Linked DNA regions of Homo sapiens. Changing the gene in region 1 together with any one later gene gives a genetic interaction. Each region holds a gene or a part of one and is shown on either strand. Other genes may lie near its edges.

Region 1 (3,911 bases):
AAGTCTTAGTCCACGTTTGTGTGACACTAGGTCACTGAAGCTGTCGCCCACTGATTTTCTGATATCTTATGCTCTTATTTTTCCTTTATTAAATTGATGGTAAAATACAAAAAGTTAACCATTTTAGGCTGGGCACAGTGGCTCACGCCTATAATCTCAGCACTTTGGGACGCCGAGGCGGGCAGATCACCTGAGGTCAAGGAGTTTGAGACCAGGCTGGCCAACATGGTGAAACCCCATCTCTACAAAAATATAAAAATTAGCTGGGCATGGTGGCAAGTGCCTGTAATTCCAGCTACTCAGGAGGCTGAGGCAGGAGAATCACTTAAACGCGGGAGGCGGAGGTTGCAGTGAGCCAAGATCGCACCACTGCACTCCAGCCTGGGTGACAGAACGAGACTGCGTCTCAAACAACAATAAAAAAGTTACCCATTTAAATGTACAATTCAATGGCATTAAGTACATCTACAGTGTGTTGCAACCATAACCATTATCTAGTTCCAGAACTTTTTAATCACACCAAGCAAAAACTGCATATTCATTAAGCAACAATTCCCCACTTCCTAGTTTCCCCAGTCCCTGGCAATCACTAATCTGCATTCGGTCTCTGTGAGTTTGGCTACTCTGGATATTTCATACAAGTGGAATCATACAAAATGTGACTTGTGGTGTCTTCCTTCCTTCTCTCCTTCCTTCCTCCTTCTTTCCTTCCTTTCTTTTTTCTTTCATTTTAGAGACAGGGTCTTGCTTTGTTGCCCAGGCTGGAGTGCAGTGGCTCAATCATAGTACACTATTAACCTTGAATTCCTGGGCTCAAGTGAGCCTCCCATCTCACCCTTCTGAGTAGCTAGGACTACAGGTGTGTGCCACCACATCCAGCTAATTTAATTTAATTTTGTTGTTGTTGTTGTTAGAGATGAGGATCTTGCTATGTGGCTCAGGCTGATCATGAACTCCTGAGCTCAAGCAACCCTCCTACCTCGGCTTCCCAAAGCTCTGAGATGACAGGCGTGAACCACCACATCCAGCCCTCTTTTGTTTAGAGTAATGTTTTCAAGGTTCAGCCACGTTGTAGCATATATCAGTGCTTCATTGTTTTTTATGGCAGAATAATATTCCATTGGGTGGATAAACCACATTTTGTTTATCCATTCATCTGTTGATGGACATCTGGGTTGTTTCTACCTTTTGGCTATAGGGAGGAGTGTCTCTATGAACATTTTTGTTTGAATACATGTTTTCTCTATACATCTTTGGCCCCATATTCTCCTCTTGGAGGTCAAGGACCCTATCTTCCTTAGCCATTTAATCTCCCTGGTAGGGGCTTGCATGTTAGCAATTATGAGGATGTGTCATAAGATGCAATCTTGGCCACACGTGGTAGCTCACGTCTGTAATCCCAGCACTTTGGGAGGCTGAGGTGGGTGGATCACCTGGGGTCAGCAGTTCAAGACCAGCCTGGCCAACATGGCAAAACCCCACCTCTACTAAATATACGAAAATTAGCCAGGAGTGGGGTGGTGCATACCTGTAGTCTCAGCTACTCAGGACGCTGAGGCAGGGGAATTGCTTGAACCCGGGAGGTGGAGGTTGCAGTGAGAGATCACGCCACTGCACTCCAGCCTGGGTGACAGAGCAATATTCCATCTCAAAAAAAAAAAAAAAGATGTAATCTTGCCCAACAGGTACAATAAAAGATTGCCAATGTATAGATGTGGGCATGTGTAAGGGACAGTGGTGAGGATGTTCCGGCTGTTGTGGGAGCTCTAGGGGAAGGTGAGAAAGCTAGGAGTGGGAAAACTGGCAGGGGCAGAAATGAGGGGGTGGGGAAATGGTACGGAGGTTCATAACTGAGGAATGACCACGACTGCACTATTTCAGGAGCAGACAAGATGGAGACAAATTCCTCTCTCCCCACGAACATCTCTGGAGGGACACCTGCTGTATCTGCTGGCTATCTCTTCCTGGATATCATCACTTATCTGGTATTTGCAGTCACCTTTGTCCTCGGGGTCCTGGGCAACGGGCTTGTGATCTGGGTGGCTGGATTCCGGATGACACACACAGTCACCACCATCAGTTACCTGAACCTGGCCGTGGCTGACTTCTGTTTCACCTCCACTTTGCCATTCTTCATGGTCAGGAAGGCCATGGGAGGACATTGGCCTTTCGGCTGGTTCCTGTGCAAATTCGTCTTTACCATAGTGGACATCAACTTGTTCGGAAGTGTCTTCCTGATCGCCCTCATTGCTCTGGACCGCTGTGTTTGCGTCCTGCATCCAGTCTGGACCCAGAACCACCGCACCGTGAGCCTGGCCAAGAAGGTGATCATTGGGCCCTGGGTGATGGCTCTGCTCCTCACATTGCCAGTTATCATTCGTGTGACTACAGTACCTGGTAAAACGGGGACAGTAGCCTGCACTTTTAACTTTTCGCCCTGGACCAACGACCCTAAAGAGAGGATAAATGTGGCCGTTGCCATGTTGACGGTGAGAGGCATCATCCGGTTCATCATTGGCTTCAGCGCACCCATGTCCATCGTTGCTGTCAGTTATGGGCTTATTGCCACCAAGATCCACAAGCAAGGCTTGATTAAGTCCAGTCGTCCCTTACGGGTCCTCTCCTTTGTCGCAGCAGCCTTTTTTCTCTGCTGGTCCCCATATCAGGTGGTGGCCCTTATAGCCACAGTCAGAATCCGTGAGTTATTGCAAGGCATGTACAAAGAAATTGGTATTGCAGTGGATGTGACAAGTGCCCTGGCCTTCTTCAACAGCTGCCTCAACCCCATGCTCTATGTCTTCATGGGCCAGGACTTCCGGGAGAGGCTGATCCACGCCCTTCCCGCCAGTCTGGAGAGGGCCCTGACCGAGGACTCAACCCAAACCAGTGACACAGCTACCAATTCTACTTTACCTTCTGCAGAGGTGGAGTTACAGGCAAAGTGAGGAGGGAGCTGGGGGACACTTTCGAGCTCCCAGCTCCAGCTTCGTCTCACCTTGAGTTAGGCTGAGCCACAGGCATTTCCTGCTTATTTTAGGATTACCCACTCATCAGAAAAAAAAAAAAAAGCCTTTGTGTCCCCTGATTTGGGGAGAATAAACAGATATGAGTTTATTATTGACTTCTTTTTTGATTTTGGACCTCAGCCTTGGGTGGTCAGGGTGGGAAATGATAGGAAGAAGCTGTCATCTGCATCCTAGTTTGCCTGAAATGAACCCAAATAATACCCATTATTATTAGTCCTGAATTATGAGTAGTGAATGATACCCATCATTCTGGCATCATGATGAGTAGTGTCCACTTCCATTCTGAAAAGTGCCCTGCTGTGAAAAATAAATTATATAGTCATCCTAGGTAAATGAAGGAGGAGGGAGAAGTGTGAAAGAGTATGGCTTAAATCAGACAAGATATACAAGAAGATACTTTATATAGGGCAGGAGCGGTGGCTCATGCCTGTAATCCCAGCACTTTGGGAGGCCGAGGCAGGCGGATCACCAGGGGTCAGGAATTCGAGAACAGCCTGGCCAACATGGTGAAACCCTGTCTCTACTAAAAATACAAAAATTAGCTGGGCGTAGTGGCAGGCTCCCGTAATCCCAGCTACTCAGGAGACCGAGGCAGGAGAATCGCTTGAACCTGGAAGGCGGAGGTTGTAGTGAGCCAAGAAAACGCCACTACACTCCAGCCTGGGTGACAGAGAGAGACTCCGGCTCAGAAAAAAAAAAAAAGAAGATACTTTATATAAAGTCCTCAGCCTTTATCGGTCAACAACTCAGTAAAAATATAAAGTTATCGAGATGTCAGCTGAAGACCCCTCATTTCCTTGAGATCTACCTGATGCCTAATCTTTTATATAATAAATTTTGGGAAACAGATTATCCTCTCCACAAGGGAGGGCCCCCAGGGCCCGT
Region 2 (3,911 bases), on another chromosome or scaffold:
GGGGCCCTGGGGAGGCGGGGTTACCCAGGAGGTGGGGCCATGGGAGGGCGGGGTTACCCAGGAGGCGGGGCCATGGGAGGGCGGGGTTACCCAGGAGGTGGGGCCATGGGAGGGCGGGGTTACCCAGGAGGTGGGGCCATGGGAGGGCGGGGTTACCTAGGAGGCAGGGCCATGGGGAGGCGGGGCCCTGGGGAGGCGGGGTTACCCAGGAGGTGGGGCCATGGGGGGGCGGGGTTACCTAGGAGGCAGGGCCATGGGGAGGCGGGGTTGTCCGGTAGGTGGGGCCTTGGGGAGGCAGGGTTACCGGGAGGCAGGGCCATGGGAAGATGGAGTTACCCAGGAGGCGGGGCCCTGGGGAGGCGGGGTTACCCAGGAGGTGGGGCCATGGGAGGGCGGGGTTACCCAGGAGGCGAGGCCATGGGGAGGCGGGGTTGCCTGGTAGGTGGGGCCCTGGGGAGGCAGGGGTACCGGGAGGCAGGGCCATGGGAAGGTGGAGTTACCCACGAGGCAGGGCCCTGGGGAGGCGGTGTTACCCAGGAGGCAAGGCCATGGGGAGGCGGGGTTGCCTGGAAGGCAGGGCCCTGGGGAGGCACGGTTACCGGGAGGCAGGACCATGGGAAGGGGGGTTACATGGGAGGTCGGGCCAGGTGGAGGCAGGCTTACCCAGCAGGTGGGCCCTGGGGAGGCAGGGTTACCCAGGAGGTGGGGCCCTGGAGAGGCAGGACCCTGGGAAGGTGTGATCACAGCGGAGATGGGGCCCTGGAGAGGCAGGACCCTGGGAAGGTGTGATCACAGCGGAGATGGGGCCCTGGAGAGGCAGGACCCTGGGAATGTGTGATCACAGCGGAGATGGGCCCTGGAGTGATGGGGTCACTGAGGAGGTGGAGATCCCCAGAACGTGGAGCCAGAGAGAGAGGCAGGGCCTTGGTGAGACAGATCCCTAGGGAGTCACGGTCCATGTGGTAGGGGATGGGGAGGTAAGGCCCAGGGAGGCAAGGCCACTGCGTTCGTGAGGAGCCGGGGAAGCCAGGGGTAGTGAAGGGTCTGTCTGTGTGTGGCACAGGTCCTGGCAGCAAGCGGCTGGGCATCGATGGCGACCGGGAGGCTGTTCCTCTAACACTACAGATTATTTACAGCAAGGTAAGACCCGTGCTGGGGCTCCTTCCCCTCCAGGATCTGCTGCTGATACTTCCTCCGCCAGAGCTTGGACCCAGAGCTGGACTCGTGTGTTCCTGGGCCCCAGTCTTTACGCTGGAAGGCTGCAGCAGGCTCCCCTGGATGCTGAGAGAAGCAGAGAAGGGAAGGAGTGGATATCTCTGTGCTTCTTGGCCTCCAAAGCCTCTCTCCCACCATGTTCTCTGCCCCCACCCGAATGCGCTCAGCAGCAGCCCAGGGGTAGGGGTCTGCTGGGCCTGGCTACAGGGCTGGGGCTGAAAGGGGGAAAGGGAAGCCTTCCAGAGGCACCTCAGGGAGAAGCCAGGGTCTCGGGGGGCCAGTGTGCCTGGCAGGCTGCATGCAAGATGGGATTGGCGTGAGAAAGGAGTGAGGAGAGCTGTGGGGAGGTGGAGGGCTGTCCATGACATGCCAGAAGACATGAGTTCTCTGAGCAGGTCGCATCCCAAGGTCCAGGCTGAGGGAAGCTTGGCCTCACAGGTGGGCTTCTTCCTTCGGCCATTCCAAAGATATCCTCTTAGCACCTGCCCATGCTGCCTCTGTGCTGGGCAGGGGAAAAGAGGGGTTGAGCAGGGAAGCCTAGGCCTCACTTTAGCTTGTCTAGAGGAGGGAGACAGACAAGAAACGAGGAAACAAAGAAATAGCCAAGATAATTCCAGAGAGCGGCAAGTGATGACAAAGCAATAAAACAGCAGATGGACGGTGGTGTTGGGGCTGCAGTGCGTTTGGCAGTGAAGGAGGTGGGCAGGAGGCACCGACACTCACTGTAGCCACATGCCAGGTGCTTGCTAGACGTCTTCCACAGCCCAGGCACTGTTCTAGGCCCTGGAGCCTTCCTAAGAGTGAACAAAGGACAGACGTGGTCCCAGGAGACCTGCTGGCCCCCTGGAGTGGGTGGTAGGCATTGGTTCGATGATGCACACGATGTAAAATTACAACTGTGACACATGGATGAGGAGAGGGACACGGGATGTTCCTAAGTGGCAAACCGAACCCAGTCAGGAGAGTTAGTAGTGAAGGCTTCCTTGAGAAGGCACCTGAGTTAATATTGGAGGGAAAACCAGGAATTAATTAGGCTGAGAAGAGAGGTGAGTGCTCTCACAGCAGCAGAAACTGCATGTGCAAAGGCCCTGTGGTGGGAGGCAGTGTGAACACCTTGAAGCACTCTGAAAGAAGACCCCCAGGCTGGAGCAGAGACAGCTGGTGGGAACATGATGCTGAGGTGAGGCTAAAGAAATGGGGGACCAGCATACCAAGAGCCTTAATTGCAATGAAAGGAGTTTTGTGGTTTTTTGTTTGTTTTTTTGAGACATAGTCTCGCCCTGTTTCTCAGGCTAGAGTGCAATGGCTCAATCTTGGCTCACTGCAACATCCGCCTCCCTGGTTCAAGCAATTCTCCTGCCTCAGCCTCCTGAGTAGCTGGGTAGCAGGTGCCCGCCACCACACCCGGCTAATTTTTTGTATCTTTAGTAGAGACGGGGTTTCACCACGTTGGCCAGGCTGGTCTCGAACTCCTGACCTCATGATCCACCTGCCTTGGCTTCCCAAAGTGCTGGGGTTACAGGCATGAGCCACCACGCCCGACCCAATGAAAGGAATTTTATCCTAGTCCTAAGAGCAGTGGATATCCATTAAGGGGGCTTATGTTTGTGGTGGGGCTGGGAATGCCTGTGACATGATTATATCTGAGGCTTGGAAGCTCCCTCTGGCAGCTCTGTGGAGGACAGATAGGAAGGGTCCACAAGTGATGCAGGAAGGCCAGTTAGGAGGCTGTTGCCATGGTCCAGAAGAGAAATTAGGGCAGCAGCCTGCACTAGGGTAGTGGTGGCAGAGCTGGAAAGGAATGGGAGACAGATGTGAGTGATGTAATCAGCAGGGCCCATGGATGGGTTAGGAAAGGAGAGGCCAGACTCCTGGAGTCACTCCTCTGTGACTGGCAGCACCATCTTCTCTGGGGGGACCACAGGAAGAGGCCGGGGTCCAGTTGGGGAAGAGCTTGAGTTTGGGTCGGGACATATTATTGAGGTTGAGAGGCCTTGAGAGGTATAAGGAGACAGTGAGAATAGACGGCTGGCTGAACGGGCCTGACTTTGTGGTGAATATGAAGATGGGTGGACAGCTGCTAATGGAAAAAGGTCACGGAGGAGACTCCTGAAGGGGGGAAGCAGGGAATACAAAGAGCAGAGGACCAAGGGGAGAACCTTGAGCCCTTCATGATGTAATGGCGGGCAGAGGGCAGCGATCCAGCAAAGCAGAGAGGCACCAGCCAGAGAGGCGCTAGAAAAACCAGGAAGGTGCCATCACGAAAGCCCAGGAGAGGTTTTCAAGGAGGGGAGAGCAGTGAACTGTAAGGTCAAGTAAGCTGAGGACCAAGAAGTGTTCTTCGGTTTAACAACATGGAGGTCCCTGATGACAGAGACATTCACACAAAGACTTGAAGAGGGGGTTCAGGTCTGGCTCTGCCAGAAACAGCATGTCTGTGGGCCCAACCCTTCTTCACTCTGGGCCCGGCAGGAGAGCTTCAGGACCACCCCTGCAGGTGCTCTCAGCTCTTGTACCTTTCAACCTGGTCACAGAGGCTGCTGACCCCTAGACCAAGCCAGTGACGTGAGCTCTTCCCTGGAGTCATCCAGGTCTATCCAGGGTGGTACAGGGGCCCTGGTGAATAAGAGAGGGCTTTCTGGGGATATGCTAACTAGAGGCAACCCCCTGTCACTGATGGGCCTTCAAAGAGAAGG

Evidence for each region.
Region 2: of FPR1 (region 1) and PIK3R5, changing one enhances a phenotype caused by changing the other (phenotypic enhancement), as found in Homo sapiens cells (one study listed by BioGRID).

The regions. Positions count from the first base shown.
Region 1 is NC_000019.10:51,744,976-51,748,886, reverse strand, and holds the end of FPR1 (fMet-Leu-Phe receptor), read left to right. Parts: intron 1-1,881; 5' UTR 1,882-1,892; coding exon 1,893-2,945; 3' UTR 2,946-3,114; downstream 3,115-3,911. UniProt on the Homo sapiens protein: High affinity receptor for N-formyl-methionyl peptides (fMLP), which are powerful neutrophil chemotactic factors. Binding of fMLP to the receptor stimulates intracellular calcium mobilization and superoxide anion release.
Region 2 is NC_000017.11:8,881,936-8,885,846, reverse strand, and holds part of PIK3R5 (phosphoinositide 3-kinase regulatory subunit 5), read left to right. Parts: intron 1-663; exon of another isoform or gene 664-1,063; coding exon 1,064-1,140; exon of another isoform or gene 1,141-1,281; intron 1,282-3,911. UniProt on the Homo sapiens protein: Regulatory subunit of the PI3K gamma complex. Required for recruitment of the catalytic subunit to the plasma membrane via interaction with beta-gamma G protein dimers. Required for G protein-mediated activation of PIK3CG.